Linked DNA regions of Homo sapiens. The protein of the gene in region 3 binds, or shares a complex with, the protein of the main gene of each other region. Each region holds a gene or a part of one and is shown on either strand. Other genes may lie near its edges. The genes, in order: GNAI1, GNAS and HRH1. A codon is read from its position in the direction of its gene.

The links.
Region 1: the proteins of HRH1 (region 3) and GNAI1 are in contact, whole or in part, in a cryo-EM structure (PDB 9LRD), measured with the Homo sapiens proteins. Residues at the interface, in NP_000852.1 of Homo sapiens: Arg125, Ser128, Val129, Pro132, Leu133, Leu136, Lys137, Thr140, Ile213, Val217, His220, Cys221, Arg409, Lys412, Ala413, Gln416, Leu417, Cys471, Asn472; in NP_002060.4 of Homo sapiens: Arg32, Asp193, Leu194, Asp315 (codon at 4,460), Phe336 (codon at 4,397), Thr340 (codon at 4,385), Asp341 (codon at 4,382), Ile343 (codon at 4,376), Ile344 (codon at 4,373), Asn347 (codon at 4,364), Leu348 (codon at 4,361), Asp350 (codon at 4,355), Cys351 (codon at 4,352), Gly352 (codon at 4,349), Leu353 (codon at 4,346), Phe354 (codon at 4,343).
Region 2: the proteins of HRH1 (region 3) and GNAS are in contact, whole or in part, in a cryo-EM structure (PDB 9LRB), measured with the Homo sapiens proteins. Residues at the interface, in NP_000852.1 of Homo sapiens: Asp124, Arg125, Ser128, Val129, Gln130, Pro132, Leu133, Arg134, Leu136, Lys137, Arg139, Thr140, Ile213, Ala216, Val217, Gln219, His220, Cys221, His223, Lys412, Ala413, Gln416, Leu417, Cys471, Asn472; in NP_000507.1 of Homo sapiens: Gln35, Arg38, Ala39, His41, Lys216, Val217, Asn218, Phe376, Cys379, Arg380, Asp381, Ile383, Gln384, Arg385, His387, Leu388, Gln390, Tyr391, Glu392, Leu393, Leu394.

The regions. Positions count from the first base shown.
Region 1 is NC_000007.14:80,211,902-80,221,830, reverse strand, and holds part of GNAI1 (guanine nucleotide-binding protein G(i) subunit alpha-1), read right to left. Parts: intron 9,116-9,929; coding exon 8,962-9,115; intron 4,529-8,961; coding exon 4,338-4,528; 3' UTR 1-4,337. UniProt on the Homo sapiens protein: Guanine nucleotide-binding proteins (G proteins) function as transducers downstream of G protein-coupled receptors (GPCRs) in numerous signaling cascades.
Region 2 is NC_000020.11:58,901,421-58,909,190, reverse strand, and holds part of GNAS (protein GNAS), read right to left. Parts: intron 5,664-7,770; coding exon of another isoform or gene 5,661-5,663; coding exon 5,606-5,660; intron 5,520-5,605; coding exon 5,400-5,519; intron 3,809-5,399; coding exon 3,711-3,808; intron 30-3,710; coding exon 1-29. UniProt on the Homo sapiens protein: Guanine nucleotide-binding proteins (G proteins) function as transducers in numerous signaling pathways controlled by G protein-coupled receptors (GPCRs).
Region 3 is NC_000003.12:11,253,427-11,264,518, reverse strand, and holds the end of HRH1 (histamine H1 receptor), read right to left. Parts: intron 5,517-11,092; 5' UTR 5,482-5,516; coding exon 4,018-5,481; 3' UTR 962-4,017; downstream 1-961. UniProt on the Homo sapiens protein: G-protein-coupled receptor for histamine, a biogenic amine that functions as an immune modulator and a neurotransmitter.

The DNA.
Region 1 (9,929 bases), on a different chromosome or scaffold from region 3:
CCTTTACTAAAAATACAAAAATTAGCTGGGTGTAGTGGCGCATGCCTGTAATCCCAGCTACTCGGGAGGCTGAGGCAGGACAATTGCTTGAACCATGGAGTTGGAGGTTGCAGAGAGTGGAGATTGCACGACTGCACTCCAGCCTGGTGAAGGAGCAAGACTCCATACCAAAAAAAAAAAAAAAAAAAAAAAAAGAAAATTTCCAACCTAACATTAAAATATAAACTCTCTCATACTATTGGTTACATTAAAACGACAGAAGTGTCCTCAAGTTGATTAGAGATTGCATTTTCTCATTTTCCAGTATCAATATGTGAGACACTTAGTTTTCATTATGAAAACGAATTATGAGAGTTTTGTTTTTGAGGCATTTCATTCAAAGCACGTATCAACAACCATTTGTTAAGCACTGATTATGATTTTAAAGGCACCTTAAAACTATTATTTATAATCAAATAACAGCAAATTGTATTGACGGCTTATACATTCCACACTCCCCTCTAGGTACTTAACATGTACTGTGAACTTATTTAATGCTGACAACAACCATTAAAATTAATGGATTATTTAATCCTTATTTATTTTCAGATGATATAAATGGAGGCAGAGCAAAACTAAATTATTTGCCCAGATTTTCCCAGTTAATAAGAAATTGAGCCAGGATTTGAAGCCAGACGGGGTGCCAGAGCCTAGGATTTTCACCATCACTTTCTACTTCCAACATAACACACTAAGCAATGATGATGCTACCATCTGTAATAATGATTACAGTATCAACTAAATTCATTTACATAAGGTGGTTCTGCAAACGGCAAATGATGTAAAAAATGGTAACTGTGCTCTTAAGTAGCTTCACATCTAAGGAGTAAAAAATAGCTCTGATGAAAGACATTAATAAGTATCTCCTTTTTTAAATCTGAAAAACTATTATGGCTCAGAGGAACTCAAGGGCAGAGTGGGGATAGGCGAAACACTACTTACACATTTTCTGGAAATAAGGTAGCATCTTTGGGGTCCTCTGACAGACATGGAGTCAGAAGCTCTAGGTTTAAAACCTTCATCTGGTCTTGCTCAAGTTAATTAACCTCTTTAAGCCTTTTTTGATCTCTAGTTACTGTCAGTATTCAATGAGAACATATGGATTTTAATCAGTACTTTTTCAGTAACAAACTGAATTCGATTAAACTAGATTAGGCATAAAAAAGTAGACTTTTAGAAGGTTACTGAAATGAAGAGAATTTTAGAAACCACAAGCGCCTTAGGGACTTTAAGAATGGCAACTGGGACAATGATTGGCTCACTCGTCCAATGCTGGAGGACTCGGATTGGTCAGGTCTAAGCCTAGAGACGGAGAAGTAAGAAATGCGATTGGCAGCTCTATCAGAATCATGTAGTTCCCAGAAGGGCACCCTGAAGAACAGATGCCAGAGGAGTCTAAAAGAGGTATCACAAACAAATTTAAAAGTGCCAAATTTAAAAGTGCCAATACATTTTACACACCATTTTAAAAGTGCTAATAAAAATAACATTGACAGACACAAATGAACACTTCCCACATTGTAGGCACTGCTCTAAGCATATCACATGTAGTAAGTAATACAGTACTTGGAGGAAAGCCCAGGTTATGCACAGGACACTATTTGGATACAGTGTAGAAAGGAACAGGCCTCAGGTGATGAAGAGCATTAAATGGCAGGCTAACTTATACTTAATTTTATTGACAAATCAGAGCCAATGCAGATCAAGGAATAGAAGGTGATAGGGCCACAGTTCTACATTAGGATAACTAACCTGGGTTTTTCGAGAAGAGAGAAATGGGAGGTGGGGAATTTAACTAATAATGCCATTTTAAGAGGAAGTTTAGCAAAGACTTGAATAGGTAGTAGTAGGAATAGAAAGGAAAACAAACAAAAAACAGATTTAAGGCTTTGTAGAACTGTCAGTAAATTGAAATGGAGATTAGGAATCAGAAGAGTTCCACCTAATGCATGCAGGGCTTAAAACTTAGATGACAGGTTGATAGGTGCAGCAAACCACCATGGCACATGTATACATATGTAACCAACCTGCATGTTCAGCACACGTATCCCAGAACTTAAACTAAAAAGTTCCCCATTGAAGGAATAAATGATGATGGTACTTAGTAAGGAAAAATGGCAAAGTCAGGGTGAGAACTGGTGTAAGGAGAGAATGATGATGAATTTAGTTTTGAATATAATGAGTTAAAAAGCAGGCAATGCATTCTCAGAAGGGGATATCAAGAAGGCAATTCCAAATGTGGCATCACATCTCATAGCTTGGAACAGGGAAAATCTGAGCTTCTGGAGTAGCTGAAATTGTAAAAAGAGCATAGAAAAAGAAGAAATGAAGAAACAACAGACTGATACTTAAATTCTAATCCAAAATGTACTTAGCCAATAGGTTTGTAAAATTTTAAAAATTTAAATTTATTAGGATTTATTAACACAATTACACAGAATAAAGTTCAGGATTTCATTAATGATGGTCACCAATATGTGCTTCTTTGTGGCTTTTTAACCCATAATTCTCATGATTCAAATTTATTCATATTATAGTTGAATTTCATACACAGCTTCACAATGTGGATATTACAGGTCCACCAGTAAAATTAATGAAAACATATCTTTCATGAAAGGCACATAAAGAATCTAAACTAACACATTTAAGGAACTTTGATAACTTTGAATTTCTTTACATTACAAAGAAGAAAATCCTCCAAATGAAACAGATATGAATATAGTTTATGGTTACACACACACACACACACACACACACACACACAAATATACTTCAACCCAGTGACAACACGTAACTTGGAAACTACTTACCAGCAACGTGTACTGAAAGACTAACCTTTTCCAAGATGAGTAAAAAAAGGAGGGTGGGGTGGGGAGTGCTGTTTACTTTGCTGAAACAAGGTCAGAGATGACACATCATGAATAATCAAAAGAAAATTATTCTATCAAAGCTCAGTATCTAGCTGATACATAACACTTATTTGAGCACACATATAATCACTGACTTATTAAACACTATTACTCATTTTCTAAGTGTAATCGTCCATTTCATTCTCAGAAATAATAGTATAATTGAAAAAGAAATGATATAATCTCAAGCAAGTGGAGAAATTTGAATTATCTAAGGGAAAAAAGTAATTTTAACATAGTGTGATAATTACATTTGAAATTAGTTATATGTATAAATTTAAATCTTGCATTATATCAGCAATAGAGTATTCAAAGATCCTTCTTGTTATCTTCCCAACAAGGAGCTATCATGTATGCTAGGTACAAGAGACTCCTCAAGGGAAATAAAAGCCTCACCAATCAATGTCTCAAAATTCATTATGTCCACAGGTTTTTTTTTTACCCACAAAAATGCTCTTAGGATCCCTCCAAACTTAGTTATAAACAAAAATGTAGTTATTTAAAGTGAATAAAAATTAAGATGACATCACCTTTGAGGCAATGCATTCATATCAGCCAAATATTAAAATTCAGAGTGAAAACAAGTGAATAAAAACTAAGTGTGTACAATAAGTCTAAGACAGTATATCCTCAGAAATCTGAAATTTTAGTTTTTCAAACCAAATCTAACGTGGAATCTAATGTAAAATTAAATTATTTTATTTTCTTAAAGTAGGAAAAATCAAAATGCATACAATGTTTAAATAGTTGATCCAAAGGCAGGTGTATTCATCTTAAGAACATTTCAATAAAACACATAAAATTTAAAGAACAAATCATGTTATTAAAATAGTCTGTGCAATGTTTGTACAAATAACATTTTTATTAATACAAGTATACATATAATCTAGATAAGGGCTGTAATGTTTCCTAATATTAATTACTGTACTTAAAAATTTACAGGACATGAACATAAATAAAGCTGTTTAAAACTGGCAAACGTAGTAATAGTCTGTCATTCAGTACAAGGTATATTTATGTTATTTCCAAAGCCATCACCCTAAAATCCTAAGTTGCCACTCTTAAAACCTAAAAATAATGTCGAAAACTAAAGTCATAAATACATGTATACATACATTTGCATATTTACACTTATGCAGAAATCATCAATATACTAGAGCCCAGCTTTAACACTGTCCTTCAGTTTCACACTGCAGGACCATCTGTCACATTTAAGAAAGGTCCTTCTGTTACTTTCAGTTAAAAAAACAAAACAGAACAACTTTGGTCAAGTCCCAGATGCATTTGCCTTATATTACATTCTGTGTTGCTGCAAGACTCTAGTCTACAGAGATCCATATATAAGTACTCATTTGGTTTGAAAATGCATTTTACCATGAACTGCAAAACTTAAAAGAGACCACAATCTTTTAGATTATTTTTTATGATGACATCTGTTACAGCATCAAAAACAAACTGCACATTCTTAGTATCTGTGGCACATGTGAAGTGGGTGTATATTTCCTTTGTGTCCTTTCTTTTATTGAGGTCTTCAAACTGACATTGAATATATGCAGCTGCCTCTTCATATGTGTTTGATCCTGAGATGGAAAAAGGAAAGAAACATAAATGCAAAAAGTTAAAATAACTGCTTAAAATACTGAATTCAGTTTCATACATATGAAACTGAAGTCAGTTTCATACAGTTTCATTCATGGACTCCTTAACTGTGCTTTCCCTTCTAGAATGGGAGACACTATTTCTTCTAAATGAAAAACACTCCATGTTAATTACCTTTAATGACTAAGTTATCCCTTAAACAAAAAATTTCCTTTACATGGCATTCCGTGTTCATCATGATCTTTGTTCCTGCCTCAATCCTCAAATGCCAGATCTTTTATCCTCTTATCCTCTGTCCTCTACACCCCAGCTCAGATGCTTGACGACGGCATGCTATTTCAGTTCTGGCCCAATGGTGGATCAAAAAATGTTGGCTGAATGCTGATCAGTATTTTTTCCTCCCTTTTCTATATATACATTAATTTGCATTCTTCACTCATTTTTCTTTATTCAAAAATTGTACCAAGGTCTACAATGATGTTTAGGAGTATGAGGTTACAAAAAAAGTGAATGACACACTCCAGCTTTCAGGTTATTGACTATAAAAGACTTCCTCTGAGTACAAACACTCCAGAAATTGTTTGGCAATATCTAAAGATAATCACACACACACTCTGACCCCGCAATTCAGTTTCTAGATATACACTTGACAGAACTGTGTATCACTGAAGACACAGAAGAAGTGAGAATGAAAGTACTCAGTAACATGAATTAATCTCCTAAGTGTACTGTTGAGCAAAAGAAGCTAGATGCAAAAAGATCGCATACTGTATGATCCAACAATGTTTGAAAAATGAACTGGTGAGGACAAAAACCTCACCAATAGTGTCTGTGGAACATGTGAAGTGGGTGTATATTTCCTTTGTGTTCTTTCTTTTATTAAGGTCTTCAGTGATTATCAGTGAGTAATCAGTGATTACTATGTGTATGGGTTGTGATTGTGTTATGTGTGTGTTGTGGGGAGGGTTTGATTGGTTAAGACTGAGAGGAAGCATGATGGGGCTTTCTGGGGTCCTGAAGCTGTTTGGTTTCTTGACCTGAGTGGTGGATACTGGTACATTAACCTTTAAACACGCACTTATGCTGAGGGTGTGTGTGTACGTATGTATGTATGTACATAATATTATAATATACATTAATGTATATAATGTAATGCTCTATGTAATGCTTCAATAAAAAAACTGAAAAACATTCAAATTTCATTTGGAAAAAAACTGTTTAAACCCCTCTTTTGTAGTAATAATCCAAAATTATCTGCCAGACTTTCAAGGTCCTCTACTACCCAGCCTGCTCTGCAGTGCCATCATTCTGAGATCCTCTCCTCCACACTGGCGCTCACCCCAGGTCCATGTCGTGAGGACCTAACATGCAAACTGCCACCTGTGGTACTGTAGTACTTCCTCTTCATTCTACTTCACCGGCTGAGATCTCTGCCTGCCTTCACATTTGCTCAAAATTGGCACTCCATCTAACTTTTCCTAATTAATCAAATCTAGCTGGGTTCTCTATCACTTAAAAACTTTTTCCTCCTCCTAGAAATAACTATTTCAGTTTTTGTTATATTGCTTTATAGAGTCTTAAATTCTTTTTCAGTGCTGAATCTCCTAAACTAGAATGTGAACTCTTCAAGAGTAAATATCATACCCCACAAGCCTCATACTCCTTTTATATCTTATAGAATCCAGTGTAATACAATGTGACAAATGCCCATAGGAATGTTGTGTAATGTGCTATGACAGCATAGATTATGAGATTTTTATTAGGGATAAAAAGGTACTAAAGCTATCGTCTTTAAGTTTACATTTTAACTCTTTTATATCACTAGAAATCACATACTTTTAAAAATCAAATTTTATTAAATCATAAGTTTCGTTCTCCAAAATTTTAAAGCAATCAACAGCATCTTGTTGGCCCACAGAAGCTAATGCAACTGCTAAATTAAACTATGCTTCAGCCAAACAGCTTACATTGAGTGCCTAGCTCAATTTGCTCTATATATCCTAGGCAGCTAGCTAGATTACCCTAAAAGCTACAACACATATGAATGAACATTCTTCATTCTGATTTTAAGTCTTAAGAAACAAATGGCAAAGCAGGGACAGGAGAGCAAATATGATAGATTGTTTTTTAATGTGTGATAGAATTGTCCTGAACAAAGGTAAGTATAGGTGATAACCAGGTTCAAAAATGAAGAACTGGGAGGCTGATGACACAATCAAAAGGGAAAGAGAAGAGATCTGAGTGTAAACAAGAAAAAGAGTTCTGTTTGAGCTTCAGGTGCTAACCAACCAACCAACCGACCAACCCAACCAACCAAACAACAACAAAACATGTATGTTCAAGCAGTTGCTAATGTAAATCTAAGGCTCCAGAGAGAAATTAGGGCTGACCACAAAATTTAACCTATTGAGAATAGATACGACTATGAAAGGATAAGAGAGCTAAGATGACGTGACTGCAGATGAAACTGGTGAAGTGGCAACATACAGGAAAAAGAAGAGGAGGAGAAGGGTAACACAGGAGCAGACAGACAGGAGATAAATCAAGTGAGTTGTTTAGGGGCTACACAGGGTTCTTCCACAGCCACAGGAAATTGAGAGTTGCGGCTGAAGCAAGAAGCAACTGAATCAATACTTTGGGCATGCCATGGAGATCTTAAACAATAATCTTAACTCTGGGGATGTGAAAGAATTATGTAATATTCTTTTTGTGCAAAGATTCTGAAGTCAGGTATTCTTATTAACTTAAGCAAAACACAAGCAAAAATTCCTAAACACACTGTCTACTTGGCAAGGAAAGAGCTAACAAGTATATTCTTAGTTGCTCTAAAATCCCCGTAGGTATACAATATTTATGGATTCACTTGGGGAATCTGGTACTATGAATTAGTACAAAATGGCTACATCATAGAATATGATAAAAATAAACTGAAAAATATATTCAAATAAGGGAAAAATTAAGCCATCTTGACTCTGGGTAGCTTATTTCTAATAAGCACAAAAAAATGTTGCTGAATACAGTGATTTAGGACTTTGACTTTCAAAAAGAAAGCAAAGTTTTAAAGTAAGTAAATGTGTGAAATTAGTTTGAACTGAAGTGTAATTTCACCGTACACAAAAAGAGCTATAAGTAACATGATTATATTTACCAAAGAACCCTCCCCTTTTGGTTCCACTGAATGTTTAATTAAATGTAGCCTAGTCGTTCATGGTCTAGGAGCAGGAGGACAATGGACTTGGGTCTGGAACTGGACTCTGGCTTCAGGAAGCCCCGGTATTCTCATTTGTATGGGTAGGGATACCTGAGCACTGACATCACAGGGTTGTCTTAACATTTCCTGTAAAATGGCAGTGAATACTCATCGTACAATTTACTCAACACAAGACTGAGGAAAATTCTGTTTATAAAAAAACAAATTCTTGAGACTTTTAAAAAAAAAAACAGGAAGAGTGGGGTGAGGGTAAATAACTAAACTCTTCAAACTATCTAGATTTGGAGATTACATAAACCAGTGGTAATCAAACTCCCTGTTTTTTTAAGGCATACTGAATGCTCTTCACTAAAGTAAAACTTTACTCAATACATAAACCAGATGAAAGCTGAGTTACTCTGCTTTAATGAAAAAGTTATAAGGTGGTGGGTGCAGGGGGCAGTAATTAGCTCTGTTCCCTCTCCCATTTCCGCCTTCAACAGCAACCCAGGAGGTGCTCCAAGGAACTAAATTAAACTAAAACTAATGTTTTAGCCCAACTCCTGACTTCACAGATGGAATACTGAGACCTAGGTGAACTAACTGCCTTGTTCAAGATCAAAGAGCTAATTATGGAAAAGTCAGGACTGTACTTCAGGTCTACTTTCCTCACTCCAGGGAATTTTCCATCATAGTAAAATTAAAGCACTATTAACAGTCTCATTACCAAAGTTTTGGCTTCTTGTGAAACCTTCCCTGCCCTTCTGGAAGAGTTAGCTGCCTCAATGATCCTGTCTTCATTTCCCCTTACTATAATGTTCATGTTCCTTATTTTAGCAGTAGGTTGCACTGCTATTGCCTGTTGTTTAAGTATGTCTGTCTTTCAGATTAGATGGTGGGCAGAGACATGTCTTATTTATTGTACATCACACAGTACCTGATATGAAATCTGTTAACTGGATTTAAAAAATAGTATTTTAACTTGGAGTCATCACTAAAAATTATCTAACTGCTTTTCCATAAAATGAATACATTATTTTCAGTAATTTCATCTACATCTTAAGGAAATTTTTATGCTCAACTGCAGTTTGATAAATAATACCCCTTAAAGGTCTAAGAATCACTAAGCCAAGAGATTTAAATTAACAACTGAATTCTTGCCTTAGGGGAAGTTTCACTTAGAAATATGTAACTTGACAAGTTATTCCCAGAAAAGGAAAATACCTGCATATTCTGGATAGCATATAGTGAGAGGGCTCTTTTTGATTTTTTCTTCAAAGAGATCCTTCTTGTTTAGAAAAAGTATAATGGATGTATCTGTAAACCACTTGTTGTTACATATGCTGTCAAACAATTTCATGCTTTCATGCATTCGGTTCTGTAATAGAAAAAAATAAAACCAATCGTCACTAACAGCAAGGATTTTTGAGGACTATTTTAAAAAATAAAAGGTGTTGTAATAAAACAGAGTTTAGTGATTGAAAAATACGTATCACAAAAATACATTTCTGCCATTTCAGAACACACTTTCACTTTAGGTAAGAGAAGTGTCTAATCATCTTTCACCACTTTTTGCATTCAACTTTTACTTGCCAAGTGCCCACTATATGTCATGCTCTGTGCCAGGGAATATCCTGCTACAGGACATTATAATCTAGGGATGTGAAGTGTGAACATGTGAAAAGAAATGACATTGTCATAGAGTTCATTTCATCTAAATTTCCATTAGAAGATAAATAGAGGTTTTTAAAGATTAATAACTTAAATTGAACAAGCTAAGACCCAATTAGCCCAATACTCTAAATATTATAATAAATATAAATACTGGAAGGACACTTCCAATTCCTGTTTCTTGACCTTCCAGGATCTGTGCTCATCAAAGAGGGCACTGATACATTTTATAGTGCTGAAATGAAAGAAATGAACATGTGGTGTTGCACTGCACCTACTACACTATAATTTCATATACTTGATTTTAAAAATACAATCGTCTCTCGGTATACTCAGGGGGATTAGTACAAAGACCTCCAAGGGTACCAAAATGTGCATACACTCAAGTCCAGCAGGCAGTTCTGTGGAACCCACACATAGGAAAAAGTGGCTTTCTGTATACTCAGGTTTTGCATCCCATGAATGTGCTTGGTTGAAAAAAATTTTCATATATGTGGACCCATGCAGCTTAAACCCGTTGT
Region 2 (7,770 bases), on a different chromosome or scaffold from region 3:
GCTTGATCACGTCGATCTTGTCCAGGAAGCTGGGAGAAAAAGAAAGACACGTGGGGTGTTCACAGCGCTCACATCAATTTGCCAACTATTTGTGTCTCTCTACAAGGTCAGGCTCAACGGAAGTGACCGTCCCACAGTTATGCAGCACTAAGTCAATGGCACATTTGCTTGTGTGTTGGTTACATTTGTAACTCAAAGCTGATGCCTTAAGAAGGTTAGGGCAAACAGGATTTAAGATAAATAATTTTAGGAATCAGGGAACTCTAGATGCGTCTAGCAGCTAGCCTGTGGCCTCGACGCAGTGGGGCCACACAAACAGCACAGCACGGTGGTGGGGCTTTGTTCTTCGTGTTTATTTTTATTTTTTCTATTTTTCTTTTTTATTCTTTACTTAGCTTCTTTATTCCTGTTGCTCTCTGGCAATATTCTTGATTTTTAGAAGGTTTTATGCATATCAACCAGTAGAGAAAGGACCCCAAAACCAGGCTGGCCTATCACATTCTGTGCCATTTGGTAATGCCTGACAAAAACATTTTAATTTTCAAATTGCTTGATTAAAATGGCAAACAGTTTGAAAATTGTATACCTCTATATCATTCAGTTAAAAAACAATAAAGTGACATTCTTAAAAACATCAAGGACTTTCCCCTCAAGGGCACACGAGATTGTTTTAGTTACTGAGAATCTGTATCCCTTCCTTTTTACTTTTTAAGAATCTCATTGATTAAAGAGAACAAAAGAGGTTGGCACAAAGGGGCCCTTCTCGCCCTAGCCATCCTGAACAGGAAACAAACACAAAGTTCTCTTCCGTTCTGTTTGGTCCATGAAATAGAACACTCCAGATATTACGCTTTTCATTAAAAAAAGCATCTTGTTTGTGTTGCTTGACTAGACACACAGGAAAATTTACTTTTGAAAGATTGGGGTAATTAATATGGAAAATTAATGTTAAAACCAGTTATTTTTTGGAGGGAGGGGCATGTAGAGATTGGAATTGTTTTAAAGCGGGCTAACGAGAAAAGAAAATCATAAAGAGAGAAAAGTTTATTTAAAGAAACTGCCTAAGTTTTCTGTTCCCCTCTTCCTTTTTACTAGTTCAGAGTTAGTCTGGCTTAGAGGATATACTAACTTGCCCAATCAATCTTACATTACAGCACCAGTCCAGAAATAGCTCCCCAGCCGCCCTGGCCTCCAGCATGTTACCATGGCAACAGAACCACAGTTCTATAAATAGATCATCAGCACCAAATCTTGTGAGAGAGACATCTGGAGTGGAGCCAGCCAAACCCCAGCTCAACAAATAAAAATAGACAGCTTAAGAAATGGGCACACTACCAGTATCTGAACTTTAACATAAAGGCAGTTCAACCAGAAACGTGCCGGCCACGGCAGATGCAGGGCTGTTTGAGCCACGGGTGAGGGAGGACATTTTAAAAGTTTTAAGCTGCGTTGTTCTCTTTTTCTCTGAGTTTCCTTAAAACTTTTCATGATCTATACAAATGGTGCGTTTTCAGACAAAGTTTCAGGAGTAATTAAGTGTTGCTTAAAAAAACCCCAAAAACTTCTAAATGATTTGAGAGAGAAAACGAAACCCGACAAAATTCAACAATCTGGCTAAGCTACTGTTAATTAACGAAACTGGGTCTCCCTGCCCCCCCAGCATTCAAAACTGGGGTGGTTAAACTCTCTTAATCTTGTACCTGTACTTAACTTCTGACTTGGATCCAAAATACAAAATGCAAACAATTCCAGGATTTCCATTTGTTTTGCGTTACTATAATTAGCGCTTCCAGCTTTTGGTTCGAACTTTTGAGAAAATCAGGGACTTTGTTGAAGAAGGAGTGGGGGCTGGGGGCCATAGGGACCAGCCAAGATGGACTGTTTTTTTCTGTTCCTTGAAAAAATATACACATTTGCTTGTATATTAAACCGTGGAATATCTATGTATGTGGCAATTGAAAATAAAGGAATTTCCTATGGGAAGGCAGGGCTGGGGTTGATAGATTGCGCAGACCCTAACAGAGGCTTATATGATTTATAGATGAACAGTATTACCTCTTCCTCCCTCCTGTTTATTCAGGTGGTTTTCACAATCAGTTCCTTGGGCTTGAGGCTACTAAGTAAAGCAATCTTAGCCCTTGGTGAGTCAGCCTGGCACCTTGGTTCTGATTAGCTAATACTTCCTATAGCAAAATCAGTTCCGAGTTTCAGCTACTTGTAATAAGGATGGCTAAAACATCAAACCTCTACTAGACTCCCCTGCCCCAAGTCACAGGACACTCCTACTTCAGAATATCATTAACTGAGACTGCTTTGTGCATTTCTGCAGCATCAACAAACAGAAGATATCTTTACATTTTTGGCTGGGCACGGTGGCTCATGCCTGTAATCCCAGCACTTTGGGAGGCCGAGGCAGGTGGATCACAAGGTCAGGAGTTCGAGACCAGCCTGGCCAATATGGTGAAACCCCATCTCTACTAAAAATACAAAAATTAGCTGGTTGTGGCGGCAGGCACCTGTAGTCCCAGCTACTCGGGAGGCTGAGGCAGGAGAATCACTTGAACCCAGGAGGCAGAGGTTGCAGTGAGCCAAGGTCGCACCACTGCACTCCAGCCTGGGTGACAGAGTGAGACTCCGTTTCAAAAAAATAATAATAATGTTTACATATTTTTTAAATAACCCTGACCACCACATGCTTGCTATATCATGTGCAAGATGAGGGAAGCCATAAACTATTTCAAAGGCAACTTTCTAGCTATCGGGTACGATGTCCTCTGGGAGAGACCATGGTGGGTGACAGGGACAGAGGGCGATCCCTGAGGCAATGGTAAGTCAGGTGTTAGGCAGCAAGGGAAGCAGCCTGGGCATCAGGTAGAGTTGTGCAATAAAGTCTGTGTTTTAAGTTCCCCCTTCTTCATTTGCCAACACACCAACCAGGTGAGCCCACCTTTATGAGTGACTTTGGAGAAAGATGCTTTTCCCATTGCTACTGCAGGCCTTAACCTGTCCTCCTCGCAGGTAGTAATTTGTTTTATTTGAAAATAACCCCACCACGGTATTGTACTGCTTAGGTGTACAGTTTAGGATTTAAAATCCATTGACCACTTACCATCCTTGAATCAAGACCCGGTGAGAAGGAATAAATAAGGATATGAAATAGAGTTCAAAAGTCAAGACAACACAAAAACAAACTCTACCTAGAGTCACTAGGATCTAGTAACACTAGGCAGCTACTAGAGTCGCTTACCTGAGAGCAGAAATAGATCAATCAACAACTACCAAGGAGAGAGGAGGCGTAGCTATGTCTTCACCATTCCTCTTTGTTATGTTTTAAAATTACAGCAATAAAATATAGTATTTTTACATTATTCAAAATGTGAGCACAGCCCTATTTCCCTAAATGCTTAGGGTCAATTCAATTAATTACTTCCTACTAATTAGGAATACTATGAAACTCATCATCATTTTGCTCTAACAGGCTTTAAATGTTTATGTAAAATAATGTCGCTGCACTAAAAGAAAAAAAATGCAATTAAGGACTTTATAAATAAACAATTGAATCAGATTAGAACTTTCTGCCAGTGGGGTAACTGGTTGGCTTCTAAGAAAGGAATCATCAACAAGTAACTTTCAAAGCAGGATCACAGGTTTTCATGTTTTCTTGTTTTTGTCTGTTTTATGTGCTGATGGGTTGGGTGGCGGTTACTTACTACTGGGCACAGTCAATCAGCTGGTACTCGTTGGAGCGTTCGTAGCAGGCACGCACTCCTTCATCCTCCCACAGAGCCTTGGCATGCTCATAGAATTCCTGAAAGTGAACACAAGAAAGTTTAGAGAAAGGCAAGAGCTTGAACTAATCAACAACACTGTCATTCAAACCCTGAGACCAGAGTTCCCTATGTGACCGACACTTGGTGTGATTTTGAATTTTGAGCCCAATTAATGAATTAATGCTCACAAAGAACTTTAATTCAACACGTTAAACATATTCAAAAGTTCACGCAATTAGCTGCTGGGTCTTATTGTGAATTACTGGTTTTGGGTAGTTTCTTTTCTCGTGTGTAGGGGGAATGGGGTAAGCTACTGAGTAATTTAGTTTCTTCACAGAATTGTTTAGGAAGAATATACACTAAATGTGTTAGAATATGCCAATAAATGGTTCAATGTTGTGAAAATAAGAAACTTCATTTGTAAGATGTGCTGGGACTAAATTTTCCTCCTGGGAAAATGTGAATCTTACCAAAAAAAATGATGATGGGGGACTTGTAGGTAGGAACATAAAAGTTCAGATGTTAGTAGGACTAATAAAAAGTTATTGTTCTGATACATTTTTAATAGGCTGCTGTTTCCTTTTCCTATTAAATATAGAATCATATTTCAAGAAAGTCAGTGGGTTATATTATACATATTGTGTTTATTGCTTTTTTTTCAAAATAATGCTATTTAAAAAGTTTAGCTATCCATACTAACTATATACCACTAAATTTCTCCAATTTAAGTTTGCAGCCAAGTCCATCTAAAATATACAAACACAAATTCCCACGAAAGCCTGACAAAAGGCAACAATAACTCATTGTTTTAGCTGTAGACAAGTCTCTTCCCTGTGGGTCTTACAAACGCATACATCTTTCCATCTCGTTTCCCGTTCCCCGCTTATAAGCCATTCTCCCCACGAAGGGGCCTAAACTTATATGCTTGGGCTTGAACAGTTTTTTGTTCCCTAAAAGTAGTTCTTTAGGGAGCCAACAGTGTCGTGCATCCAGAGGAAAGTCTTTTCCATATGTTCTATTTTATGATTTTTGAGTTATGATTTAGATATATTTCATTTTTTTTAATAATGAGAAAAGATTTCATTTGCCCCAAGGACTTTAGAAAACTCTTAATAAAAAGGTCACCTGTTTAAAATGAGAATGTCTTCCATTTGGCACTTCACTGAGGCATCCCAAGGTACCTTAGGGCACTTCCAGTGGAGTAAATGGACAATTAGTATTTGTGTGCCATATTTAACATACAGTTTTGTCCTAAGATGTGAATGAGGGAATAATTAAGCCTGCCATAGCTCAGGACCTTTTTCCTCATAAAAATTTACAATCTAATAAAGTGAGATTGTAGTATTCAAGAGTGATGTTTATTTGTGAGGACAGGTGAGCTAAGATGTAGAAGGGGTGACAGAATTTTGCTCATCCATCTTGAACAAAGCCCTAATGATTATTATTATTAAATTAAGGTTACACATGAAATTAACTTTTTCCTAAGGATGGACATCACTGAAATGTAGTTTTGCCTGAAGTGTGGTTTGGATGCTCCTGCCCATGTGCAGGGCTGTCACTCATGTTCCTATATGGACACTGTGCTCAGGTGGGCGGGGCTAAGGCCACACAAGTCGGGGTGTAGCTTACGGGAGGGAAGTCAAAGTCAGGCACGTTCATCACACTCAGGATGTAGTCCACTCTGAACTGGTTCTCGGGGTTGGCCAGCTCCACGGGGGGCACCAGGTTGCTCATGGCGGCCACAATGGTCTGAAAATGATTTAGCAAAGCGGTCAGGGAACAGCACTGGCTGGGAGGGCGCTACAAGACAGACAGCACAAGGAGCCAGCACGTACTTCAATCGCCTCTTTCAGGTTGTTTTTGATGTCCTGCACTTTGGTTGCCTTCTCACTGCAGTGGGATTGAAAAGAAAAGAAAATCATATTGCACCATGTCAGTTAGGAGTACTGCTTTCATAAAGACATCCCGACTAAAAAGCATAGTATTCTGTTCTTCAGGGAGTTGTGGGTTCGGATCTGTGCAAAGATTGGAGGTAGCTGAATAAACATAGTTGCAAATTATAACCTCCCAAATGTGCCCTGAGGACACGCCCAATCGGGGCAGATTAGCAAATTGCCTTAGCAATCATGACTGTACCAGAAGTTGCATGCAGCTCATTTAATCTTTCATGGGTTTGAAGCCCCCACACTACATACTAACACTTCCTAAAGGCTTCTCCTGGTCCTATCAACATCTGGGTAGGGGTGAGGCTGGAGTGATAGGTCACTATGAGGTTGGGGTGGAACAAAACAGTCCCATGGTTTGACTTGGAATTAACTCAGTTGCTAGCATACTGAGAGAACCAGTGAGCACAGGTGGTGGTGTTTATAATAGTTCATTACAGGAGCCCGGGTGCGGTGGCTCACACCTGTAATCCCAGCACTTTGGGAGGCTGAGGCGGGCAGACTGCCTGAGGTCAGGAGTTGGAGACCAGTCTGGCCAACATGGTGAAACCCCGTCTCTACTAAAAACACACAAAAAAACTAGCTGGGCATGGTGGCATGCACCTGTAATCCCAGCTACTAGGGAGGCTGAGGCAGGAGAATTGCTTGAACCCGGGAGGCGGAGGTTGCAGTAAGCTGAGATGGCACCACTGCACTCCAGCCAGGGCGAGAGTGAGACTCTGTCAAAAAAAAAAAAAAAAAAAAAAAAAAAAGTCGTATGTGCGATGCTCCAGGCACTGCAGCTAGCAGCAATGAAACTTCTAGTTCATGATGTTAGTGCATGTTGGTCCATGTGCAATAGGAATCAAATAAGATTCCACCCCCTAGAAGGCCTTATAATCTAAGGGGGAGGGGAGGTCAGATCCCTCTGGTAAGTAGAGGTTGAAGGTTTTGTAGCTTTTCCTTGAGTTTAACTCAGCCACATGGGATGGCCTGCGTGGTCTTTATGGAATGATCTATATTCAGGGTCACTGGTCCCACAGGTAAAGGACACACCCTTTGGCTTCTGGGGACCATAACAGAATGTTAATTTTTGTACCACATTACACTGATCCAAATGCTGTATGTTTTTCAGAAACTAGCCTTCATTAGAAGCACAGCCAGGGAAGGTTCTCGAGTTTATGTTTTTAGAGGGCAAGAAAAGGCCTCTTGTGTGGAGTATGTATCTCATCAGGTCTATAGCCCAAAAATGGAACCAGCACACACAGCACACCTGCTGTACCTGTTAGGCCCTGGGAGGTGAGGGCGTTGTCATGCGGAAAAAAGGTGCTACGGTCCTGCCTCTCTGACAGGGAAACTGAGGCCAAGAGGGGGGGAGTCACCGAGGCAGAAACCAATGGGAGATGGAGGGGACAGAGTTTATCTTTTTCACGGTTTGTATATATATATTTTTTAATCTTTTGAGAGTCCCAGTTTTTGAAGCATTCACTTGGCTGATTCACCAATTCATAGACTGGAGTAGAAATTAAAACATATAATCTCTCCAGACTAGAACACGACAGTTAAGGCAGAGGAAAGGCGAAGGGAGGTTAATTAGCAAGAGCAGACGAGCAGACGAGCAGGGCAGGGCAGTCAGTGGAGCAGCAGGGGTGGGGGGCGGGGACGGACGGTGGGGTCAAGTGCGGGCCTGTCGACAGGCCTTCCACAAATCATTTGGTCTTTCCTTTCTCAAAGAATTATACTTACAAATTTATTCTTTCTGAATAAATGTCTGTGTACTTCTGGGCCTTCACCTGCTGAAGGATCCCATCTCGCCCCCTTCCTACGTGAAGCCCCTTTCACAGGTCACTGCACCACTGCTCTTCTACATTGGGTGAAGAGCTGGGGAAGTTCAGAGGGGCCACGCTCATTAGTGGTGGGGGGTGTCTGGGGTGGGGAGGGGGGACAGATGTTGCCAGGAATCCCCTCAGGGCCATTTAAGTAAAAGTGCTGCAGGTCCGGAGAATCTCAGAAACACAGATGACAGGGAGGTGAGCGAGCTTCAGGCCTTGTGTACAAATCTGAAATCTGATTCTGGC
Region 3 (11,092 bases):
GGGAGTGAGTTCTTTATTACAGGAGTGGGATTGCTCCCTTTTGCTCTCTCTTGCCCTCTCTTTGCTCTTCCATCATGTCATGATGCATCAGGAAGGTCCTCACCAGATGCCAGCACATTGATATTAGACTTACCAGCCTCCAGAACTGTGAGCCAATAAATTTCTATTCATTATAAATTACCCAGTCTGTGATATTCTGTTATAGGAGCACAAAACAGACTTAAGATACTCTAGTAACTATTCACAAAGTTGATTTCTGTCACTTGCAAACCTGAAGTAGCTCCACAGGGTTGAAATCATGTCTTTCTGGCTCAGGCCAGACATAAGAAGTGCTGGAAAAATATTTGTTAATTAACAGATAAGGTCTGGGAATCCAAAATAGATATGGGGACCAGAGCTAATGATTGCTCAGACGACAAATGAGGCTTCCTTGTTAGCAGGAAGATAGGGTGAGGCTAAGGAAGAAGACCTGCCTCTGCTGCCTGGAATGGGATAGGCAGACCATTGGGGCTCCAAGACCATGGAGCATTAAGAAAGATGCAGACCCAGGAGACTTAAAGAGGCAGAGAATGTTCTCAGACACAGCAGGGTCATGAGGCCCTGTGACACTTATTCAAGGCTACAGTGATTCAGGTCAATCCACCTTCATCATTTGTCTTGCATCTGAGTTGAGAAGAGTACATGCTCCCCACAATGAGAATTATATGTCACGTCAAGCTAGGCTTTGAAAGCCTGACAAATTGTGGAATGATAAATATTGGCAAATAAGATCTTTAACAGCATGTTTCTATATTTTATTTTATTTTATATTTCATTTCATTTCATTTCATTTTAAGACAGAGTCTCTCTCTGTCACCCAGGCTGGAGTGCAGTGGCCCAATCTTGGTTCACTGCAGCCTCAACTTTCTGGGCTCAAGTGATCCTCCTGCCTCAGCCCCCCAAGTAGTTGGGACTGCAGGTGTGCGTCACAGCCCCTGGCTAATTTTTTATTTTTAGTAGAGACAGGATTTCACCATGGTGCCCAGGCTTGTCTCGAACTCCTGGACTCCAGCCATCTGCCCGCGTCAGCCTCCCAGTGTGCTGGGATTACAGGCATGAGCCACCATGCCTTGCCAACAGCATGTCTCTATGGCACTTAGGGTGCATAAATAGCCAGGAGCATCCCAGCATCTTTTTCATGCTGAGTTAAGACTATTAAATCCACCTCCTGGAAGTCCATGCAGTGCCCATCTTCAAAAGAGGTCAGAGATTGTCCACAAGCCAAGTAGCCAAATGACCAATTTATTAAAGCCATTAGCCACTGATGGGCTGGGGCTTTCTTAGTGGGCTGGGGCTGACATTTCTGTATCATAGTCTGTTGTCTTTTATACATTCAAAAATTAATTTCCATCGTTCAGACAGGAGTACGAAGAGCAGATTGATAAAGTGGAAAGGAAGCACATTCCAGAATCAGACCTCGGAGCAGTTCCTCAATCTCTCTGGGCCTCAGTTTGCCTATTTGTAAAGATGGAAATCTCCCTCATGAGGTTGTTGTAAAGGCAACATTACATAATGGCACCAATACCATTAGATAACATTAGATAAAACACAAAGCCTGGCACATGGTATGTGCTCAGCATGTTTTAAAAATGCATAGGAGTGCCCTCTGTATACCAGACACTATACAAGCACTAGAGACACTGTATACAATAATGCATAGACCTTGTTCCTTAGACGCTGGTAATTTATATTTATTGACCATTTCTTGTTCTTGTCAGACTCAAATCCAGGTCTCTCTGACCCAGAGGCAGAGCTCACAATCAGTTCTCTCCACTAGTTGCCTTGATTGTTCAAGGTAAATAATGGACACTTAGCCACTTGTCTGTGTGAAGTGCTCTTTTCGAGTGTTCTTTGGTCCTGAGGGACCCTGAGGAGCAACTCTCTCACAGGGAGGTCTTCTGAACAATGGTTTCTGACCTGGAAACAGACCAGCTGCAGCTTCTGAAACCGGGATTAAAGTCTCCTAAACTCCCCCCGTTTTGAACAAGAAGTTTGGGGGATGCAAAGCAGAGTGAGAATGAAGCTTTTTACAAAAAGTAAATCCTTTTGAAAAGACATTTACAAATGTGATGAGAAACCAAAGAGAAAGCCCATATCAAACTCTGTTAACATTTGATGGTACATTTCAAAACATCTTCTTAGTCCAAGAGACTCAGAAAGGTAGAAATAAATAAATCACATAGAGTATGCTTTTAAACATCATATTTTAGGCAGGTAAAAATATCTCACTTTGACAGATCATGCAAAGAGGAACACAAAATACAAAACATCAGCTTGTACAGGCACTCCATATGCTATACATATTGTGGTTTAGCACCAAGCTTTAAAATATAAATCACAACCAGATTGCAACATAAACACCAAGTAAAACTACATGTTCCTATGTCTTTACTAGTTTTTGCTTACCAGGTATGGCTATGAAAGATTACAATGACTTTTTGACAAACACAACAGAACTCACAGATAAAAATGCACTTGGTTCCTTCAAAGCGTCCCCTTCCGTAGGTGCACGGGAACTCCATGTCAGCTGTTCGTCTACTCAAACATATCATTTTGAGCTGCCACCACTCTTGGGAATACCGTGTATGTGTATCTGTGCACACTTAAGAGGGCACATTGTTAAAATATTGTATTTTTTTTTTTGAGACAGAGTCTTGCTCTGTTGCCCAGGCTGGAGTGCAGTGGCGTGATCTTGGCTCACGGCAACCTCCACCTCCCGGGTTCAAGCAATTCTCGTGCCTCGGCCTCCCAAGTAAGTGGGACTACAGGCATGCCCCACCATGCCCAGATAATTTTTGTGTTTTTAGTAGAGACAAGGTTTCTCCATATTGGCCAGACTGGTCTTGAACTCCTGGCCTCAAATGATCTGCCCACCTCAGCCTCTCAACATGCTGGGATTATAGGCTTGAGCTACCATGCCCGGCCAAAAGGGCACATTTTTGCCTTTCGGAGAAAATATGCTACAATAAGCTGAAACCCCAGAGGATCTGTACTCTAACTTTCTCACATAACTAGCTATGTGACCTTGGGTACCTCTCTCACCTTGCTGAACCTCAATTTGCTCCTCTGCAAACTAGAGTTAGAAAATTACCCTCCTGTGGGGTGTTGTGGGGCTTAAATGAGATAAACCTAGTACAGCCCTCAAAAATATGGCATTCTGCCCCCATTCCTTCTTTTAATTTTTAACGTGCAACCATTCAAAAATATTTCATTTCTCTTTCTTTTGAGGATGTCTTTTGCCACCACTTTTTTAATAGCCAAAGGAAATTTGGGGTTAAAGACGATGGGTGTGCAAGCTGCATAATTTTCTATCCACTCTAAACATGTTTGAGTAAGAAATAATAAGGCAGAATTTCCAGGGTGGTTCAGACACTGGTTCTGGAGAAAGCTGTTAAAGAGGCTCAGAAGAGAAGTTTTCTGAGAAGGGATAGCCCCTGTGGAACAGCTGTCATGCCTCTCAAGGTGACCCCTGGAAGGGGACAGCAACTATTGGCATGGATAAAGTCTCTGCACAGTTATACAGCTCCATTCCAGGAGGGCTCAAGAGTCCTTTTCAATTCTCCAGTGGAACCCTAGCCACGTGTCTCTTCAGTTGTCAATCACTTGACTCGGAAAGCTTGAATTACAATGAGTCTGAGGCTCCCATAGTTCCTGAGGAGCAGGAGAGTTCCACCCAGGTCTGATTCTCTCTCTCTTTTATTTTTATTATTTTTTTCTTTTTGAACCCAGTTACAAGAAACAGGTCTGACTTTCTTGCAAAGATTCTGCTTCCTCCTCAAAGTTCAATCTCTCTGCTGATCACCGCCATCTGCTGTTCTTCTATGGTGCCTAAGAACTTTCCAAACTACCAAGCCCCTAAGACTGTGGTTTGGATTCCAGAAAGCCCAGGTGCCTGCCTGGCAACACACAGGCCTTCGTCCTCTATTTCCTTGTTGGACATCATAAGGATCATTTTGTTGCATCCCCTCAGAGCCTCCCTTAGGAGCGAATATGCAGAATTCTCTTGAATGTCTTCTTGAAGTTCTCATTGCACAAGGGGTAGATGAGGGGGTTCAGTGTGGAGTTGATGTAGCCCAGCCAGATGGTGAACATGTGCAAATGTTCATTGCAACAGTTCTTGCAGAAGGCAATGACCATGAAGAAGATGAAATAAGGGATCCAGCAGAGGATGAAGGCTGCCATGATAAAACCCAACTGTTTGGCGGCCTTCCTTTCGCGGTTCATGTGCAACCCAGATACATACTGTCTTGAATGCGAGCGGAGCCTCTTCCAAGTAAACTTGATGTAATCCAGGCCTGTGTTAGACCCACTCCTCAATTTGCCTTTGCCTGGTGCTGTCTCTGTGGTGGTATCTGAGTCCGTTCGAGAGAAGGATTGGCTATCACCTAACATCTGATCCTCTGATATCTCGCTGGCCCCATGTGTGTTCAGGCCCTGCTCATCTGTCTTGAGCTGGCCATGGCTCCGGTTGACGGCTACATAGTCCCTGCTACTCCCCTCTGCCGCAGCCTGCATGTGCACAATATCAAGTGGAAAGCAGTAGAGTTTGTCTACTTCTCTATCATCCTCTTGGCTGAAGACAACTGGGGATTTCATCTCCTTGGGGGTTTGGGATGGTGACTTCAAGACAGATCCACCACCAGCATCTTTTGGCTTCCTTTTCAGAACCTCCCAGGGAGACTCCTTCCCTGGTTTCTTGGCATCCCCCTTGGGGTTCTCTGGCCTCAGCTTAATTTCTGAGAAGGAAGGGAGGGACCTATTGATGAGCTCCCGGTGCTGGCAGTGTTGTCGTACGGCCTTGTAGATCTTGGCATAGAACCAGAGCATGAGCAAGGTGGGCAGGTAGAAGTTGATGATGGCAGTCATGACCTTGAACCAGGTGACATCATAGAAGTCTGTCTCACACTTGTCCTCTCGGCGCACCGAGGTCTGCTGCATGAAGTGATTCCAGCCTAGAATGGGAATAACCCACAGAAAAGAGAGAAACCAGGCCCCCAGAATGGTGGCCGAGGCTCGGGTCTTGGTACGATACTTAAGGTACCTGAGGGGCTGCTGGACAGAGCGGTAGCGATCAATGCACAGGATGAAGACACTGAAAATGGACGCTGTGCTGGCCACATAGTCCATGGAAAGCCAAAAGAGGCAGAGAGGACGGCCCAGTGACCACTTGGACATGAGCAGGTAGAGGATGTTCATAGGCATGACGACGGCACCCACGATCAAGTCCGCCACCGAGAGGCTGACGATGTACAGGTTCCCCACAGTGTGGAGCTTCCGCTCACTCCGTACGGCATACAGCACCAGCAGGTTGAGCCCTACTGTGACCAAGCAGATAGTGCTCAGGACCACCACCAGGGGCATCAGCTGGGGGCTGGCCATAGTGGTCTTGTTGCCCTCACACATCTTGTCTTCTAAGAGGCAGGAGGAATTGGGGAGGCTCATTGGCGCAAGAGCAGCCACCAGTTATGGCTCACTCCCTGGGAGAAAAGAGAGAAAAAGTAAGGTCAGAGACTTGGGTGATGAGTGGCCACTTAGTAGCATGATGTTCATCAGACTGGAGTTGTATGCTGTTGGGGGTGATCAACACTGCTGGTTACCTACTCAATAGCCATGTACCCTTTTCCTTATTCATGCATTCATTTGCTCACTTAACAACTATTTATTGAATTTCTGTCACTCTTCTAGGTGTTGAGAATATAGCTGTGAACAAAATAGACAAAAATGTTTGCCCCTATGGAATGTGCATTCTAGTGAGAGAGTTGGGCAGAAGCAAGACAAATGTGTTTGTAGAAATCTAATTCCGCACATGTTCTGGGAAGGTGGGCTGCATCCTCATGTGTCTAAGCAGAATATAGCAATCCAGTTCCTCTTTACAGTGGCAGATAGAGGAGTGACCATGAGATACCACCATGGCCAAGGAATAGGATGAGGATGTCAAACAGCAGAGGCGGAGTTTTTAGGAACGTTCTTCCTCTCTGACAAATGATCAAAACAACAAAAATTGTTGTTGCTCACTTGCCTCTTTCTCCCTGACAGGATGTGAGGAAGTGATGTTTGAGGCCATGAGAGTCATCTTGGGACCATCGGGAAGGCCAAGAAAATGCCAGCCTAGGGCCTTGCTGTCACTAAGCTGCTGAGCCAACTCTGGAATCTTCTTCTCCCAGACTTATTATTATGGGAAATAATTAAATGGGCTTTGTTTTGCTTGGCTTTGCTTTTTTTTTTTTTTTTTTTTTTGGCTTACATCACTGTTGTGGCAGTTCTTACTTGCAGCTGAGACCATCCCTAAATGATATGGAGGAGGTTATAAGGGGACACACCAGAGGCACATAAAGCATGAAATAAATCTAGCATATCTTTTTAGAGGAAAATTCTCAAGTGAGAAGGGGATTATGTTATTGGAAAAGCATATTCGTTATTTTACTTTTCTATTTGAAAAACAAACAATTTTTTTAAATTACATAAATCATGCCAAGTAATATGTAACAAGACCCTTGCTAGTAGGCTGGAAATGGTGGCTCACACCCATAATCCCAGCATTTTGGGAGTCTGAGGTGGGAGGATTGCTTGAGGGCAAGAGTTAAAGGTGGAATGATCACTTGAGGCCAAGACTTGCAGCCTGGGCAACACAGTGGAATCCTGTCTTTACAATGAAATTTTTTAAAAATTGTCCTATAATACACCTATAGTCCTAGCTACTCAGGAGGCTGCAGTCAGCTATGATCACATCACTGCACTCCAGCTTGGGTGACAGGGCAAGATCCTGTATCTGAAAAATAAAAATGAAAACCCTTTGCTACTAAGGCTCTACTGAAAACGGACTGTATCCTCTGTTATTGGTGATACTCAAGTCGGGTGGTTGGGTGAAAGTAAGTATTAAATCTTCTGGAAGGAGTTTTTAAGATTTTTTTTTTTTTTTTGAGATGGAGTCTCACTCTGTCACCCAGACTGGAGTGCAATGGCACCATCTTGGCTCACTACAATCTCCAGCTCCCAAATTCAAGTGATTCTCCTGCCTCAGCCTCCTGAGTAGCTGGGATTACAGGAGTGTGCCACCACACCCGGCTATTTTTTTTGTATTTTTTTAGTAGAGACGGGGTTTCACCATGTTGGTCAGGCTGGACTTGAACTCCTGACCTCAGGTGATCCACCCACGCTGGACTCCCAAAGTGCTGGGATTACAGGCATGAGGCACCACGCCCAGCCATTTTTTTTTTTTTTTTTTTTAGGACAGAGTCTCACTCTGTCGCCCAGGCTGGAGTGCAGTGGCACCATCTCAGCTCACTGCAACCTCTGCTTTCTGGGTTCAAGTGATTCTCATGCCTTAGCCTCCCGAGTAGCTACAATTACAGGCACCCACCACCACGCCCAGCTAATTTTTGTATTTTTAGTAGAGAAGGGGTTTCACCATGTTGGTCAGGCTGATCTTGAACTCCTGACCTCAGATGATCCGCCCACCTTGGCCTCCCAAAGTGCTGAGATTACAGGTGTGAGCCACTGCGCCCGGCCAAGTTTTTAGATTTTCATATTCATCAAAAAGTGGTGAGTTTAAAGAAAACTGATAAACACTAATAAATAGTAAATTTCTCTCAATAATTTAGCAAAAAGAAATTATTTTTACATTAAGACAAAGCCAGATAAGTTCTTGAGTAGAAGGCTAAATTTATTTATTTATTTATTTAGAGACGGAGTCTCGCTCTGTCGCCAGACTGGAGTGCAATGGCGCGATCTCGGTTCACTGCAACCTCTGCCTCCCAGGTTCAAGTAATTCTCCTGCCTCAGCCTCCTGAGTAGCTGGGATTACATGCGCCCACCACCACGCCCAGCTAATTTTTGTATTTTTAGTAGAGATGGGGTTTCACCATATCAGCCAGGATCCTTTTGATCTCCTGACCTCATGATCCACCCACCTCAGCCTCCCAAAGTGCTGGGATTATAGGTGTGAGCCACCGTGCCTGGCCTGTAGAAGGCTAAATTTATATAACTTTTTAAGATAAAAATCAAAACCCCAAGGTGTTTGATCCTTGTGGAAGGAACCTTTTAAATGTCTTTGTTGGAAAAACACCATTTTGGGCAGCACTGATTTTGCCCAAGCTCTACCATTTATTTTCTCAGTGATCTCTTGGCCTCCATCTTCTCATGTGTCAAATGGGTAGGGTGGGATAGACAATCTCTAAAGACTTTTCCAGGTCTCTTTCTTACAGCGGTATTTTTTGATGTCCTCCAGCTCTGAGGTGCCAATCAGAGCAATCCTCTGATTGCTGATGGGGCCTCCTCTGACTTCTTCAAAAGCATCACTGTCTCCTTGGGTGACCCAAAGTCCTGCCCTATGCTCCTGTCACTCTGTGCTGTCGGCCTCGGGGATCTCATCCTCTCACTTACCTACCCCTCAGCCATCACCTCCTATGAGGACAACACTCAAACCCACAGCTCCAGCCTGTATTTTTCTCCATTCCCACATCTAATACCTTGCAGCTTCACCTTCTGCCCTGATCAAGTCCAAACCCTGTGGAATTGTCCACAGTCACTTCTGGAAGGAAGAAAGTAGGCTGTGAAAGGAAAATAACTTGGGGCCCCAAAATCACTTAAGGTAAAGGGAAAAGTCAAGTTGGGAACTGCTTAGGGCAAACCCGCCTCCCATTCTGTTCGAAGTCAGACCTCTGCTCACTGAGATAAATGCATATCTGATTGCCTCTTTTGGAGAGGCTAATCAGAAACTCAAAAGAATGCAACCATCTGTCTCTTATCTTCCTAAGACCTGGAAGCCTCCTCCCGGCTTCCAGTTGTCCTGCCTTTCCCAGACCTAAGGAATGTTCATCTTGCATATATTGATTGATGTCTCATGTCTCCCTAGAATGTATAAAACCAAACTGTGCTCTGACCACTTTGGGCACATCGTCAGGACCTCCTGTTGCTGTGTCATGGGTGTGCGTCCTCAACCTTGGCAAAATAAACTTTCCAAATTAACTGAGACCTATCTCAGATTTTCGGGGTTCATAAGGCTAAGGAAGTATTGTCTCAGGGATTTTTATTTTTTACTGTTTTGCTCGGAAGGAAGCAGGAAGTAGTTCCCCTAAACACTTCCCCAGCTTGGCATTCTCAAGGTGGCTCTCAGCTCCCTGGCCTCCAGAGGTGTCTCCTTTTTCTCTTTTCCTCATTGTCTGGCACATAGAGGGGAGAGAAACCATTTTTTATTTTACGTTATTTTTTATTTTTTAATTTTAATTTTAATTTGAGACGGAGTTTCACTCTCATTGCCCAAGCTGGAGTGCAATGGCGTGATCTCAGCTCACTGCAGCCTCCTGTCAGAGATGATAAATTCCTCTTCAAAAAGGTTTAGTTCTCTGTTCTTTGTTTCTTAAGACCAACTTCCTTGTACATCCTTGTCTCCTAGCTACCTGTTCTGTAAACAGCCTTCCTGCCTTCGCCAGGCCCAGACAAGTCCAGATATGCCTTCCCACCTAGTAACGGATAGTTCCTCTTCCTTCCCACCTAATAGACCCTATTCAATTTTAAATCTTAGCCAATCGAATTAGCTTAGATTGTGAAGTCCAACCCCAGCCAATGCGGAAAGGACACAGAAGTGCTAGGAACTGCATTAGGGATTAAAAACCCCTGCCCTACCCTGCTTGGTGTGCTCTTGCGATTGTGACTAGCACAAGCTGCACCCTTCTGCAGAAGTAAATTTGCCTTGCTGAGGAATTTTCTGCCTATGTGCTGTTTTTCTTTGTGGCACCAGGCACTTGTTTCTAACAAACTTGGGGGTTCATCTGGGATTCCCATTCTCCTCCGGGGAGGGTCTCAGATCATTTCTCGTGAGGAGACGCAGCCCGCTGCTTTGTTGCGGTGGCCTCAAGGGTAAGGGATCGAGACCCACCTGGTGTGATGAATAAACCTGGACTCTAGCAATGAGGGAAGAAAAGGCAGACAGATACTGTGGCGACCAGGTAACTCTGTGCATAGACCAAGGTAAGAAAAACCTTGGGGGCAGTGAAGTATTTCCTTGGTGGTCAGGACATCCTGGAGGTTGAAAGTGTGTGAGTAAGACACACAATTGAGTGCAGAGCAAGTGCAGAGTCCGGATCTGGTTCTGTAGTCACCTCATATGGCTTAAAGGCAGCTTGCCTGTTGTGGGGTTTATACCAACCTGCCTATGCTAAGAGGGACTTGAAAATTTCCGCAAGAGAAGCATATGGAGAAGGATAAAGCAAAAGCTGAAGAGTGTGAAAAATCTCTAGTAGGAGAGGTTGAGCCCCACAGACTCACTAGGGTGCAAGAAATCTCTAGTAAGAGAGATTGAGCCCCATGGACTCAGGGAAAAACTCTTTCTCCAGGATGGGAAATACAGCAAGTAAGACAAAAGATAGGAAATATCATGATCATGATAATATACCCTCTGATAGTCCCCTAGGCCTAACGTTAGAATATTGGAAGGATAATGGAAGGACCAAACACAAGAAAAAGCAGCAAATGATAAAAAACTGCTGTTTTGTTTGGACTGAAGAACCTTCCTCTCCCCCAAGCAGCTGCCACCACAGACCCTTCCCCTAAACCTAAAAAAGGAGCTTAAACCACTCTTAGATGACCCTTATGGAGTGGCAGATCAGATCGATCAGTTTTAGGACCCCAGATATATACTTTAGACGAGTTAATGTCTATCTTAGACATCTTATTCTCAGGAGAAGAAAGGAGCATGATACAAAGGGCTGCTATGACCATTCGGGAACGTGAACATCCTCCCGGTCAGAACGTTCCAGCGGCTGAACATAATTCCCAGCCCAGGATCCTCAATGAGATAACAACAATATAGCCCATCAAGGAAATATGAGAGACCTTAGGGAGATGGTAATAAAAGGAATTTGAGAATTAGTGCCCCGCACCCAAAATCTTACCAAGGCCTTTAATATAAAACAGGGAAAAGATGAGGGACCGACAGAATTTTTAGAAAGGCTTAAAGAGCAAATGAGAAAAATACGCTGGCCTAGAATCAGAAGACCCCCTCGGACAAGGAATGTTAAAGCTCCACTTTGTCACCAATAGCTGGCGAGATATT